Homo sapiens: one gene and its partner. The protein of the gene in region 2 binds, or shares a complex with, the protein of the main gene of each other region. Each region holds a gene or a part of one and is shown on either strand. Other genes may lie near its edges. A codon is read from its position in the direction of its gene.

Evidence for each region.
Region 1: the proteins of NPPC (region 2) and NPR3 are in contact, whole or in part, in a crystal structure (PDB 1JDP), measured with the Homo sapiens proteins. Residues at the interface, in NP_077720.1 of Homo sapiens: Gly109 (codon at 5,278), Cys110 (codon at 5,281), Phe111 (codon at 5,284), Gly112 (codon at 5,287), Leu113 (codon at 5,290), Lys114 (codon at 5,293), Leu115 (codon at 5,296), Asp116 (codon at 5,299), Arg117 (codon at 5,302), Ile118 (codon at 5,305), Gly119 (codon at 5,308), Ser120 (codon at 5,311), Met121 (codon at 5,314), Ser122 (codon at 5,317), Gly123 (codon at 5,320), Leu124 (codon at 5,323), Gly125 (codon at 5,326), Cys126 (codon at 5,329); in NP_001191304.1 of Homo sapiens: Asn110, Tyr138, Ala141, Pro142, Arg145, Ala161, Gly163, Phe164, His166, Glu170, Tyr171, Tyr204, Lys208, Leu209, Arg211, Tyr214, Phe215, Leu217, Glu218, His221, Glu222, Gln225, Ile233.

What each region holds. Positions count from the first base shown.
Region 1 is NC_000005.10:32,784,170-32,791,320, reverse strand, and holds part of NPR3 (atrial natriuretic peptide receptor 3 isoform 1 precursor), read right to left. Parts: intron 6,526-7,151; coding exon 6,438-6,525; intron 5,088-6,437; coding exon 4,976-5,087; 3' UTR 1-4,975. UniProt on the Homo sapiens protein: Receptor for the natriuretic peptide hormones, binding with similar affinities atrial natriuretic peptide NPPA/ANP, brain natriuretic peptide NPPB/BNP, and C-type natriuretic peptide NPPC/CNP.
Region 2 is NC_000002.12:231,923,329-231,930,758, reverse strand, and holds the start of NPPC (C-type natriuretic peptide preproprotein), read left to right. Parts: upstream 1-4,362; 5' UTR 4,363-4,509; coding exon 4,510-4,599; intron 4,600-5,043; coding exon 5,044-5,334; 3' UTR 5,335-5,354; intron 5,355-6,293; exon of another isoform or gene 6,294-7,430.

The DNA of each region.
Region 1 (7,151 bases), on a different chromosome or scaffold from region 2:
AATTGGTCTGTCACAAGGTCTATCCCATGTCCTCTTGGTTTCAATTATCCACCATGCACAGGGAACAAAGCTCAGATTCCCAGGACCCAACACAAAGGTCTGCAACGAACAAACTCACAGCAACTCCATGCTGTTCAGGGGCTACTTCATTGTTGTCTTATAAGATGTTGAAGATTTTCAGATCTTGGCAATAAATAATGAAGAGGCCACCCTGTTTCCAAATCTGAATTTGCCTCTTTTTTAGCCATCTCTGTCCAACTATCATGCACCGTGACAGCTTTGTTCTCCTAGCAAATAAGAAATATTTTGGTAGCCTATGTTGTGATTTACACTTGGTAAGTAGGCCCTTTATTCCTTGTGCATAGAAATTTAGGTCTTTAAACATGAATCAAAGCAATGCAGCATTTTTGCTAACACTTAATTCTGCTTGTTCAAATCTCTCCCCTATGAATCATCTCCCACTGATATATCACAGAGCTATTATAAAATGGATTTTTACTCATGAGATCTGGCTCCCATTGAAACACTTCCATTGTGTTTGAAGTCACTTAAAACTTGAACACTGACAGCATCAGCTGGTTTAGAATACTTTGCATTTGGTATGAATTAACATTAGTGGTTAATGAGAAATTTGAACAAACTCCAATCCAGCACCTTTTGGAAGTTATTTTAATCCTGCAGTCTAGCTGTGGGGTATGCCTGCAAGAGATATTTATGGAATGTGCATGCTGAACACCAAAGCCAGGCTTGTTGGAGTTTATGCACATCACAGGCTTGAACTTCCCCGAGAGCAAGTGTGGTCAGGTTAGCATAAGGGTTCTGATGAAAAGCCAGCTACATTCTTAAAACCAGCACTAGTTTCTCTTTCTTCCCCCGAGGAAGTATGGAGGCCTACTCACAAATTTCTACCTGCATGGGCAAGATGCTGACACATCCTTGGAGTGATGCTGAATGTGGATGTGGGTGGAGGGGCAGAAGGGGCAGTAAAGACAGTGGCAATGGGCAAAGCTACCCTCTTCTATTTCTGTTAGAGGATCAAGCTTCTGATTCTTCTTGCTGAGTATGGCTGTTGAAGGGGCACTAAATTATTGATTATTCTTGAGTTCTAAAGACAACTGAAAAAGAAGCTGGTCCCTCTGAACACCATCATCTCATTCTCTCCGCTTCCACAATTGCCTCTAAAATATATCCCGTGTTTTTAGACAGTTTCAGTTTTTTCCACTGAATAAGAAATTCAGCTCATTACCAACTTCCTCATGTAGCCCCAAACCATGGGGTGTGATTAAATAAAACCCATGAAATGTCTGTAGGTCGAGGGGCCTAATTTGGGCTGACATTTACTCTCATGTCTGCATCCACTCAGGATCTGAGTGCTTTGTGTCCCAAGAAACACAGGTACTTGTTCCTTCCAGTTTATAAACACTCACAGTGGCATAATACTCTATTTGATCTCCCAAAGAGATTTCCACAAATAGCCAGTGTATACTGGCTTACAAGAAGGTAGTGACGCCACTGGAACCTACTTTCTGAATCCATCACTATCTGCATGAGATCTATGCAATGGCCTTCATCTCATTGTTGACTGCATGTCTTACACACACACACCCAAAATCAGCCATAACTAAAAGGAAAGTGATGCATTTGGGGCAAAGAAGGCACATGTGCCTTGAGTAAATTAATGATTTTAGAAGCCTGTGAATAGGGAGAAGTGAGGGCATTCCAAAGCAAACGTCTTTGAATTTAAGAGAAAGGAGAAAAGGAGGTGTTCTTTTCCCATGCATTTCTCTCTTCCCTCCATTAAACATGGGTTCTGAAATGTGAAGAATTATAGTAGGGTCTGTAGAACCATTCCTGTGGTTCAAGAAAAGACAAGTTGATGGTTCTTCAGAGAAATGTGATGTTTTCAGGGACCTTCTCATGAAACCTGTGGTCAGTCTTGAGGGAGAGATGGACTCTATACAAAAAATTCTTTCCAGATTGAAGTTATCTGGGGAACGCTTTTATTTCTGAGTCTCCCCCTACCTGGCCCCCCTACCCAAAAATCTAAGAAGACAATGATGACCATAAGACAGACACTTATTTCCAACACCAAAAAGCATCTACGCATTTTGACCTGTATCAATGTCAGCTGAAGTTTGACTGGATGAGAAAATACTGATAAATTATCCTTTTTGAAATCTGAACACCCTGGATTTCAGGGTAAAATCCTATAGAATTACTTAAGAACTAAAGCCCTATTTATTTTACTATATGACATGTGACTACTAGTAGAGTATGAATTACTAGTTGTCAAAGATGTTGCTTAGCAGTTAGGAACGTAAATCCCCAAATATAATCATGAGAGACCTGAATCCAGGGTAACCATGGGCCAGGCACCTACATTTTTAACCAAGGTTTCCAACTTAATGGAATTTTCAAAACCTAACAGAGTTTTTGTAACCCATATGCAGATTTCAAAGAAAAAAAGTAGATGACTGACATGTAAATAAGCAATCAATATTAACATAAGAATTGATTTTAAATTGGTATAGCATCCAGAAACCTCATGATTTGTTCTGCCACTTTTAGAATACTAAATGCTCACTTATCTCTAAGATCTTATCTAGAGCTATCATATTAAGTTTAGGACTATTCCTCTACCTGAAGTTAAAATAGAATATATTTGCTCTAAAAATGTTAGTGTTAATGGGCTGCTATAGAAGTTTTAAAAAGGTTAGAAATGTTTATACTCAAAGACTGCAACCAGGTAGATTATTTTTCCCCTGTAATAAGCACATAGACTTGAAATGTAAATGCTTTTTACAAGCACAAGATAAGAGAAAATGAATATCTCTAAAATATAAAGAAAACATCATTGAAAAATAAAAATGAGAGAGAAACAAGCTCTCCAATTCAAGTAAGTAAGATGGACACAATCCTTCCTTGCTGTTTCACTTTGGGGAGTCCCAAGTGGTACAACGCTTTGCTTGCCTGGATTTTACTTCTCAAACTCTCTTCCTGCACTAGAACTTCTGGAGTTTGCCCTTCTTGCCTTCTTCTTCCATCCTTTTTGGAATTCGACACTTTTTCCTTTGCATCCAGCATGGAGAACTACAACATAGTTGTTTCAGTTGATCACACTTAATTCTTTTATCACGCCCTCTCAGCTGCCTCCCAGCTCCCATTTCTTAAACAACAGAAGGGAAATGTGCCTCACACAGAAATAATCTGTTAACTGTGACTCAGGTGGGAGCAACAGAAGCGGACTTCTCCAGGGAAGCACTCACACATGGGCCAGCATCTGGGACAGGCAGCTTGCGCTTACCTTTGCCTCCACTGTTACTTGTGTGAACTACCACCTTCATCGCCACCAAGGGATTGCTCAGACTCTCCTGTTTCCTCACTAGACATGCCTTTTAATAGATATTAAGACAATTTTTTAAACTATTTTTCAGATGCTCAAAATGTTATTGAGGAAAGACCCCAGTTATGTAATTCCAAGACGGTGCACTCTCATGACAGCTTCCCATTCCTCCCTCACTGTCTATCTTCTCCATAAAGTATAAGTGAAAGTAGTAACCTGAGTTTAAACTCATGTTGCAGACTACTGGGTGCAAAGCAGATACCCAGTAAAAACTTACTCAACTTTGTCCAAATTCCTTATCTCCACACCTAACCCACTATTACAGGTATTCATGGATGCCTACAAAGTTCTGTGGAGTTAACTGAAAGGGAATAGAGTAGATATTTAGGTTCCCTCTTTTAAACAAAATAATCACTGGGAATTTTGGTAAATGCCATGTGTAAAAGTTTTAAATTTGTCATTTCTGTGCTTGCTGTCAAGTAGTAACTCTCAACAAAGTTGTTCTTGAGGGAAAAGGGCTGCCTCCCTTTATAAAACTGTTTAATTCTAATAACTTTTTACTCTTGATCTTGAAACTCATGATCTGGCCAGAACTGGAAGGAGTGTCACCCTAAAATAACTTGCATTTAAAACAGTTAAACAGTAAAAACGCAAAAGAGTTAAAATGTTGATGTATTCCTGTAGAGTTTGTAATCTGAATACATTTACACATCTCTGTAATTAAAGCAGCAATTAGCATTTGGCTGTGGCCAAGGGAAAAAGGGAAACAGGGAGAAAAAGAGAAGTATTTTTTATCATTATTGGTTTGTTGTACACTTCACCCATGCTTTTAAAATGTAAGCAACATTTAATCTTCAAAATGAAAAAATAGACAAATTTTTCTAATACCAAAATATAAGATTAAAATACTTGTAAAATAAAATGTTAGTGCGAAATAGGGCTTTTTTTTTTTACATCAAAAAGGAAATATTTTTGACTTGCTTTTCTTCTGTAAATCCTCCCATCTCACTAATATTTACAACAATCCAGAGTAGCGTTTATGAGACACTGAAAAAGACAGGGAGGAAATCCTTTTTCAAGATATGAAGTCAGAACCTGAATGTAGACATCGGACAGAGAAGTCCTCAACCACAAACCTGTCCTCCAGCTCTAGAGAGAGTAAGGCTGTATTTCCAACCTTGAGATTTTTCATTACATTTTCCCCTTTTTGGGTGTTAAATTCTTTCCAAGAATGCTGTACTTGTAAAAATGATTTTATTCTAGCTACAAAACATTTCATTTAAGAAAACCGCATTTTATATCCTTGTGTGAAATGCTCCCAAAAGCCATCAAGATATGGAGACAACAGATTTTAAAAACATAAATCTAATCATATGGGCTTGAAACAGTATGAACATTTAACAGAGTGACACGATATCATTATTATATTTGTTTGTCATGAGATGAAAGGCCTGGAGGCAGATGGTGATTAATCATAATTCCTGAGCTTCTACAGAAATTTTAAAATGAAATTACTAACTGCTTAAAATTATGAATTCTTCAAGAACGCCCCTTCTGTTTCATTGATGTCTTTCAACCCGTCTATCTCCTTAAAGAATCTCAGGCAGAAAAAAAAAAAGTGGGGGGCTTCCTTTAAGCTACTGAAAAATGGGATCTGATGGAATCTTCCCGTAATTCCCGATGTTTTCCAAGGTTACTTTCTTCTTGCTGGGTTCGCCTCTCAATGGTTATTCTGTATTTCTTCCTGGGTAAAGGGAAAGTGAATGTGGTAATAAAACTTGGCTACAAAATACCATGGTTTCTCTTACAAAGAGTGCCCTCAAGGGACATCTGGGTTTCAGTTGATAAATGAGAAGTGACAGAATATGAAACCCTGGTCAGAGATTAAAGTAGTGTGCCCCCAGGCATGGTGCCCTTATTCAAGAGAGAAAATTGGCATGCTTTCCCAAATACCACAGAACAAGCCTTCCCCTTCTTCCCTGGGTGCCTTGGGGGTTAGGTCTTGTCTATTAGGCTACAGAAGTTCTCCCTGATTCCCAGGATATGCCCTTGATAAAGATCAAATTACATGTACTGTGGCCAAAGGAACAGGAATACAATTGTTCCCACAAAGGGTCACATATGCCTAGTTACAATCCCATGCAGAAATAAAGAAACCTTGCTCTAATGACTTATGAATAAACCACAAACTCAACCACCAAAGATTACAAAGGAATGGGCCACCCTCACGGGGCAGAACAATCAGTACCAGTGCACACACGTACATTATTACAATTTTGCAAGCCTTGGAGCTTAACCACAGTGGCAAATGAGCATGTGGGCTCTCCAGATACTGAGCACAGATCAGCCTGAGAGCATGGGCTACGCAAAGCTCCCTCCTCCTCTTTAAGGTGAGCCCAGGCATCTATTTCTGAATTGGAGAAAGCCTGAGAAGGGGGAAGTTGATTTCCCCCTTTATCCAGATTCCCTCCCCACTGCTTCACTTGGTGGGTGGTAGGAATTCTTGTCAGAATATCTGTGATCAAAGGGCTAGACACAGTGGCTCACACCTGTAATCCCAGCACTTTGGGAGGTCGAGGTAGATGGATCACTGGAGGTCAGGAGTTCAAGACCAACCTGGCCAACATGGTGAAACCCCATCTCTAATAAACATACAAAAAATTAGCCAGCCATGGTGGTCTGCACCTGTAGTCCCAGCTCCTCGTGAGGCTGAGGCAGAATTGCTTGAACCCAGGAGGTGGAGGTTGCAGTGAACAGAGATCGTGCCACTGCACTCCAGCCTGGGTAACAGGGGGACTGAGACTCCGTCTCAAAAAAAAAAAAAAAAAAAAAAAAAAAATCTGTGATCAAAGGGCAGCAGCAGCTCTCTGTCCCACTGTGAGATGTAGTCAAAACCCATGACCCTGGCACCCAGTATGCTAAACCACTGACCACACCAAACCTGGGGTCCTGCCAAAAGAATGGCTGAGATTTTTTAACCACCGTGCTTCCTGGGTGAAAGAGGGATGTGGACAAATCACAAAGAGAATCATGTAAAATCAAATGACAAAGACAGCAGAAGAGAGTGAATTGTACCTTTACAAACCGTCCTCACCTGAAAAAGTAGAAGGCCATTAGCAAGCCAGCTCCTAGTAAAGCCCCCACGACAATTCCTGTCACTGCCGATTCTTCTAGGCCACCTGCTTGAAAAAGAAGCATGGATAATCAGGGTTCATTTGGAGATACAGTTAGAAATGCCTCGAGTTTCATTCATTGCAAGAAGTTCCTCGATTTCCCATTGGAGGCAACTTTTCCTTTTTCAGAAATATTTTCTAAGGGACCCTACACTTGTTTTTTGTTTTATGTTTTTGTTTGTTTGTTTTTGCCCAGTGCAAAGCTTAAGAACCACTTGAGAAAGTGCCAGATAAACAAAAACACTATTAAGAGAGTGGACACAGTGAGAACAGAAGAAAATTCAAGAATCAGAGGAAAACTGGAACTGAAGATTTCAGATATAGCCACTCTCTTTTGAGTTTAAAGTCAAAGAATTGGGAGGCCAAGGTGGGTGGATCACCTGAGGTCAGGAGTTTGAGACCAGCCTGGTCAACATGGTGAAACCCTATCTCTACTAAAAATACAAAAATCAGCTGGGTGTGGTGGCAGGCACCTGTAATCCCAGCTACTCAGGAGGCTGAGGCAAGAGAATCACTTGAACCTGGAAGGTGGAGGTTGCAACGAGCCAGGATCACACCACTGCACATGAGTCTGGGTGAGACAGCAAGACTATCTCAAAATAAATAAATAAAGTCAAAGAAGACAACCAGATGGA
Region 2 (7,430 bases):
AATCTCTGGCCCGTGAAGGATGAATGACGCTTCCTTGGCCTCCATCTCCTCCAGTACTCCAGTCCAGCGCCATGGGTGCAGGACTCCTGGAGGAAGGTACCAAGCTCAAGGAGACCTGGCCATGCCCCGGCCTCTGTGTGCTCTGAGGGGCTGCACCACTAAACAGTCCTGGGGAGTTTCGGGGGCTGTGGGGGTCCTCTCACCCAAAAGTATGTGTGGACATGCAGTGACATTCAGATCTCTCTTCTGCCTCAGCTGTCTCCTGCTGTGTTTGGCCAGGGAGAGGTTGGAAGCCTCTTATCAGGCCCCAGATTCACTCTGCCCTGTCTAGAAGACAAGGACAGTGTTTTTCTAATTACAGGTGGTGAAACTGAGGGCCCAAAGCAGTGACGGGACTTGGCCAGTGTCCCGCAGCAATTTCCCTGCCTGACCTCAAGACTCGCTCACTGCCTGTTTAGTGTCTTCTCTGAGAAATTATGCAGCTGGAAGGGGGCCCCGGGATAAACAATTGCAGAGAAACAGATGGGCGGCTCTGCAATCCTCCCCTCCAGTGTGCCTGAGAGCCCTCCCCTGCAGCCCTGGGGCCAGGAGGGGGCGCTGCTTCGCGGGGCTCCTGTTCCTCCCTCCTGGGGACCTAGGCTGGACAGTCCTGTCTTAGCTGCTCCTTCCCCAGCCTCCCAGCAGCCCTTCCACACGCCTTTCTCCCACCAGGCATCCTGACCAGGGCCCACTCTCATTTTCTATCACATCCTGATTCCTGGCCAGACATCGCCTGTCCCAAGGAAGGGCCCCTCTCCAGTAGGTGTCAGAGTCGCACCTTGCCCTTCTGGGAGGAGGGAAAGAGTGAAAAGGGGCCCACAAAACGGGGTCCCGCCCTTCAGAGGGCCAGAAGGGAGAAAATGGTCCCACCCATGCAACTCTCCGACGCTGAAGGCCCTGCATACCCCCAGCCTACTGTGGCAGAGCTGATACCCTGGACTCGCCCATGCAACTCTCTGACACTGAAGGCTCTGCATGCTTCAGGCTGGCTCTGCCTCCCACTTCCTGCTCCCTCCCACTTCCCCCACACCTAGCTGACCCCCTTCCCCTTGCCTCATCTTCAGGCACCCCCAATAAGCTCACTTGCCCTTCCCACCCCCAAGAGCTCAGCAGGCTCCTCTCTCTCCATCACACCCCCCACCTCCAGAACACCATCGACCTTAGAATTGCCTCTCCCTAGTCTGCCTCCTCTGGGCACCCCTGCCTGAAGCACTCCACCCTCCCGAGGTCTGGGCACATGGGGTTCTGCAGTCTCATCGGCCTCCCCTGCCCTCTGTGTTGCCCTTTGGTGAGGCCTCTCATTTGGTTTTTCTCAAACAGCACCCCTCTAGGCCTGACTCTAGTACATTCCACTGTTAGCCTGGTTTTCTGTCGAGGTTTTCCTCTTCTCTTCCCTTCTCTTCCTGTGTTTCCAGGCTCAGCACAGACTTTTCCTTCTCCAGGAAGCCCACCCTGCTAGTCCAGGCTGGAGGAGGAGCCCTCCTTGGGTGGCCTCAGCCTGACCTGTCCCCTTCCCTGTCATTGTCCTTTTCAGCCTACAAAGCTCATGTCTGTCTGCTAGGGGGTTCTTCCCGGCTGGATGGAACCCTGCAGGCTTCAGGGATGCTCAGTAGATACCGGGAGATCAGCGAGATCAGTGAGAACGACATGATTCCTTACAGAATTACCGCGGCCTTGGGGCCTTTTCTCCCTCTTTTGCCGTTAGGAGGAAATTTAAAATTGAGCAGTCAATAAAATGACTTGAATAGCTCATATTCAGCTGCTCAGTGAGTTCAACTTTCCCAGGCCATGCCCCTGGGGCCTGGGGCAGAAGAAGCAGACTTCGTAAGGGAAAAGCAACAAAAAGGGACCTGAGTTCCAAATCTAGGCTCAGGAGGAAGAGTGGGCGTCCTCTGCAGCTCCCCAGGCAAGGAAAGCAAAGGGAGAGGGGAAACCTTCATCTCCAAGGCAGTTATGTGCTGATGGCACACCTCCCGGTGGCCCCTCCTGCCCAGGCCTCTGACTCTTACCCACCCTGCCTCCCAGGCCCCAGCTAAGCAGAAGCTGCTCCACAGCCTGCCCCCCGGGAAGCCTCCCTCTGCAGATGACCACCGCCCAGTGGTCAGGAGTGGCAGCTCACCAGATTTCCCTTCCAAAGATGGGAAGGTGAGTCCAGGGAATCGGCTCTGCCACAGTAGGTTGGGGGTGTCAGTTTTATTAATTTAGCCTCAAAGTTCAAACAGAGAGGAGACCTAGATAGTCAATCACCTGGACGCGAATGTGTCTAGGAACACAGAAGACAGGAAGGACCAACCTAAGGACGTTCAGACAGAAGGAAGTAGCCATGAACAGCGGAAGATTTCCTTAATAAGGGGCTTTAGAGGATGTACTGCTGGCCCCTGGAAACCAGCCCAGTGCTTGACTCTAGAGTCAGTCTGTGTGGCTCTGCCTGACTCTTTAAACAGGTATAAAGAAAGCAAGTGTCAGAGAAGTTCCAGATGGTAACATCCTTCTTTGCACAGCAGGCAAAAAGCAGAGGGAACTTTCACAGCCCACCTGGATACCCCTCCCTATACTGCTTTCTAGTTCCTCTTCCTTTCTCCTCAAATGAAAGAGTGGTGCCACTCTATGGGTGTTAGCACGGAGAGGAATTGGGGGGCTGCGTGGAGGTGGTGACTCAATTCACCAGAATCCACAGAAGGTGCCCTGTTGATGTCTGGATCTTCCTGGAGATCAGGAAACTTTGCTGCCCCAAACTCAGACCTCAGGTGTTAGCTGTTTCCTAAGCAAAGTGACCTGTGTAGTGGTTGCTCCAATGTTGTGAGTCAGGGTATGAGAGTGGGAAGGGGTAGCCTGAGAAAGGTGCCGACAGAGCAGACCATGATGCGGCCGCCTTAGCAGCTCTGGGACCAGGCTCACTACCACGGAGGGAAGAGGGAGGCTTGGAGGGAACCTGGTTCTCCAAGCCCCTCTTCACTCCAGTTGCCTTCCTGCCTCAGGCACAGCTTCCTCTCCCTGGAAAATCTCGTCTGGGCTACTGTCTCCCCAGAATCGCCTTCACGCCTGGGGACAGCCACTGCACTCCTGCGGCAACATTTGTTCTCTCTCCAGCCTGCGTCCTGCTCAGCAGCAGCCAGTCATAGATTCCTGCTCTTCAATCAATTCGGGGGATCTGGGCTCTCCGCCTCTGCGGCCCACACCGCAGTGCCCAAATGCCCACCACACTCCTTAGTGTCCAAGGGACCGAGAAGCCCAGTGCAAGGAGAGCAAGTTCGTGAGTGGTAGGGATATGTGGCCATGTCCCGAGAGCCACGGGGACCTCTCTACAGTCAAAAACGGGAAGTTGACCACCTGTCACGGCTGGCAGAGGCTGGACTGGGCCGCTGGCTAGGAAGCTCTCTCCCCAGCCTGTGAAAGTGCACAGGATACTGGAGCGGGCTTCCCCCAGCAGCGGATCCTCGCGTGGGTGCAGGCAAGGTCAGGTGCGCATTGTTCCCACAGAGGGAGTTCACCAGCGGAGTCAGACCCCGGGACGTTCTGTGTGGCCGAAACCGGCTGAACGTGAACCTAGAGCAGTAACTGGCGAGCATACGATGCCGCGGAGCACACGCATGAGCATGAATATCTTGGTTCCGCGCTCGCAGTCCCCTCGTTCCCGCCTTGCGCTCAAACACTCAGGCTGGCGACACCCCTGCACTCTCCAGTGTGGAAGACTTGCGCTCCCCCCTGCGGCCCAGGCGAACCCCGCTCTCCCTGCGCCTCCCACCCCAGTCCTCCAACCCCATCCTCTGCCTCCCCAACCTAACGACGTCGCTGTGGTCTGCGCTCCCGCCCTGACCGGCAGGTGAAAGGCGGAGCTGCAATGCCATCCCGCGGCTGTCAGGTGCCCAGGGAAGAGTTTGGCGACAAGCAGGGCTGCGTGGATTTCGGGCAGCGCCAACTTTATGCCTGTATGACTTTGGGCAAGTGACTTCATTCCTCTGAGCCTGTCTTTGCACCTGCAAAGAGGGCTACGTATCCCTTCCAGGTAGAGTGAGTGCGATGAGGACCTAGTGGGTGCACAGGGCACCAGGCGCACCGATGCTCGGCAGGCCAGGGCGCGCGCTCGCTGCAAATGGAGTTCCCCTGTGCGCTCAGCTCTGCAGCTCCAAGTGCAGCCTGGAGCGAGCCCGCCGAGCCGCGGGATCCCTCCGGGGTGGGATAAGGGAGGGGAGCCCCCGCGGCCCCCTCCCGGCCCTCGGCGCGGCCGCGTGCGTGGTGTCATTGGCCCGGGCGGCCCGGTGGGCGGGAGGATGACATCAGCGGCAGGTTGGATTATAAAGGCGCGAGCAGAGTCACGGGCTCAGAGCGCACCCAGCCGGCGCCGCGCAGCACTGGGACCCTGCTCGCCCTGCAGCCCAGCCAGCCTGCTCCGCATCCCCCTGCTGGTCTGCCCGCCGACCTGCGCGCCCTCGCTGCCGCCCGTGTGCGCCCCTCGACCCCAGCGGCACCATGCATCTCTCCCAGCTGCTGGCCTGCGCCCTGCTGCTCACGCTGCTCTCCCTCCGGCCCTCCGAAGCCAAGCCCGGGGCGCCGCCGAAGGTGGGTGCTGTCGTGGGGACGCCGAGCCTGGGAGAGGCGTGGGAGGCTGGGGGCTTGGAGAATGCGGCGCGCAGGACCCAGGAGAGAGGGAAGGCAGGCGGCTGTCTCCTCCGAGATGCGCGTGGGCGAGAGCCGGGGAGCCCTCGAAGCGCGGATTCGGGGGTCCACTTCTCCAGCCTCCGGAGAACATCGGCCCATGCGCAGCCCCCTACCCCAGTGTGGCCTGCCCGGCGAGCAGCAAAGGGAGGGCAGGGGGCTTCCGGAGGGAGCGGCGAAGGCGGCCGCGTGGCAGGTGGATGCGGGGCCAAGCTGGCCGGCATCGGTGGGGGCGGCTCTGGGCTTGGGAGGGACACCCCGCGCCGGCGGGCGCGTGGGGCTGGAGCATCAGAGTCCCCCGTGCTGCAGCCGCGTGTCCCTTCACCTGCCCGCTCTTTCCTCGGACAGGTCCCGCGAACCCCGCCGGCAGAGGAGCTGGCCGAGCCGCAGGCTGCGGGCGGCGGTCAGAAGAAGGGCGACAAGGCTCCCGGGGGCGGGGGCGCCAATCTCAAGGGCGACCGGTCGCGACTGCTCCGGGACCTGCGCGTGGACACCAAGTCGCGGGCAGCGTGGGCTCGCCTTCTGCAAGAGCACCCCAACGCGCGCAAATACAAAGGAGCCAACAAGAAGGGCTTGTCCAAGGGCTGCTTCGGCCTCAAGCTGGACCGAATCGGCTCCATGAGCGGCCTGGGATGTTAGTGCGGCGCCCCCTGGCGGCGGTGAGTACGGCCCACCCGACGCCCAGCCCCAGCCCGGCCCGGGACCGCCCGCCGCCCAGCCGGCCTTCGGAGGCGCGCGAGCCGCCTTTGCTCAAGTTGTGCTAGGCGTTTGCCAGCCGCCCCCTTTATTATCCCACTTTACAGACAAAGAAAGCGAAGGATAACGTGATCGGGGAACTTTGGCAAGGTCAGAAACGGCTCAGCCTGGTTGAACCCACCTGGCTTCTTCTGGAGAAGCAGAAACAGGCTTGGTGGTGTCTCACCCACCCCTGAACCGTAGCTGAACTAGCAGCACTGGCCCCTATTGGCCAGCTGGTGGGGGGATTGAGAGGAGATCATGGGTTTGTGGGAGCAGAGAAGGAAGGTTACACCCACAAGTCCAGGGGACATCGATCATCTGCTGGCCACCATGCCCCCTGTAGTGAGAGTAGCCCTCTGCTGGCACTGTCAGAGCGCCCTTCTGCCTGGGACACTCCGATTCCTGTCCCTTCTCTAAACCCAGGCAGTGGGCAAACTGGTCTGTCCAGGGTCCTGAGGCAGCTGCAGCCTGGTGGCTTCGGGGGTGAATCTCAGTGCTTGTGGCACTATTTCAGGGAATAGGAAAGACACTAAAGTAAATATTATTTGCCCCAGCCTCGAACTCAACACGTCCCAGAGTCCCTCACCAACCCTGTCCCGACCCAACCGGTGCTCTGGGCTCCGTTTCTGGTGTGGGGTCTCACCCCGCACTAGGGCTGGAAACCTCTGCCCTACCGCCACCCCCTGCCGGGTGCCGCGTGGTGGTAATTTACTGCTGCAGAGAGCCTCACCTCTCCTCTTTCCCTCCTCTCTATTCCTGCCGCCTGCCCGTGCCCACTGAATAACATCCCAGCCTCTGACATTGACAGTCATGTGCGTTAGGATCAGGCTTACCTGGCTTTCTCGCTTTCTTGCCTCCAGCTCAGCAGCTGCCACTGCCTGTCCCACACCTTGACTGTCCCATCCCAGGCTACGGGCAAGCTGCTGTCTCCTCCCCAGAAACCCTTGTCAGTGTCGGATCTTCTCCCGGAGGGAAACAAGAGCGCCTGTCCAGCACACTGTCTCTTTTTTACAGTACAGAACACTTTTTCACAGTTTGTGAACCCATTCACCTCTCCATATTGAACAGCTTAAGGGCGAAGTGCTGGCCTAAGGCACTCTAGGACCCACTGCACCCCGAACAGACTCGTGGAAATATTTGTCAATGACCAGAGAAACCAGCACACCCTGGCCCATGGCCACTCCCACCTGCCCGAGGTTTTAACCAGTGCCCTTCCTCTCTTTGCAGCCAGACCTCACTCGGCTGTGGGCCTCTCCCCAGTTCTGCAAAGGCTGTAGTTGTCTGTGATCTTGACTCTCCCCTGCACAGGGAGAAGAATGATTCTGACACTTGGGGACCAGCCTTCAGTAGCTACCCTTGGAATGCCTTTGCTCTCTTCTCTCCTGTCTAAACAACAAAGAGACGGAGTCTGAGGCCTCAAATTTTCAGTTTGATTTAAGCATCAAGTTCAAACTTTAGAACCTGAGCAAATGTTAGTGACTCTCCATTGGTTCGTACCTGGAATGCGCATCCCCACAGGGGCTTTGTTCTTGGGCCTGGATGTCTGTGGTCACCAAGTGATGGCCAAACGGGTGGTGAAAGATGCTGTGTAGGAGGAATCCACATTGTTAAGAATTCTCGACCCCTTTGATCAGGGGGGTTCAATAATCTCCTACCAGCTCTCTTAGCATAGATGAACACTTACCGTCGACACCTTCAACACCGGCTTACGCCCAACACCAGCTGTTTTATTATTATTTGGGAAGGGCGGTGTGGATTTATTATTTGGGATTTTTTAAATGAAAAATAAAAACCCCACCCTCACTGCCCCCCATTCCCAGTGAGAGAGCAGAACATCATTCCTGCAGGCTCCTGGTGACGATGCCCAGGATATATCACTGGGCGTAAAGAGAAAGACAGCTTAGATTTTTCACATTAATGAAAACTCTTTGAGGTTGTGGCTGTTTCTCCACGCAGTGGGTGACCTGGGCTCTAAGCCACCGTAATGATGGTGGTTG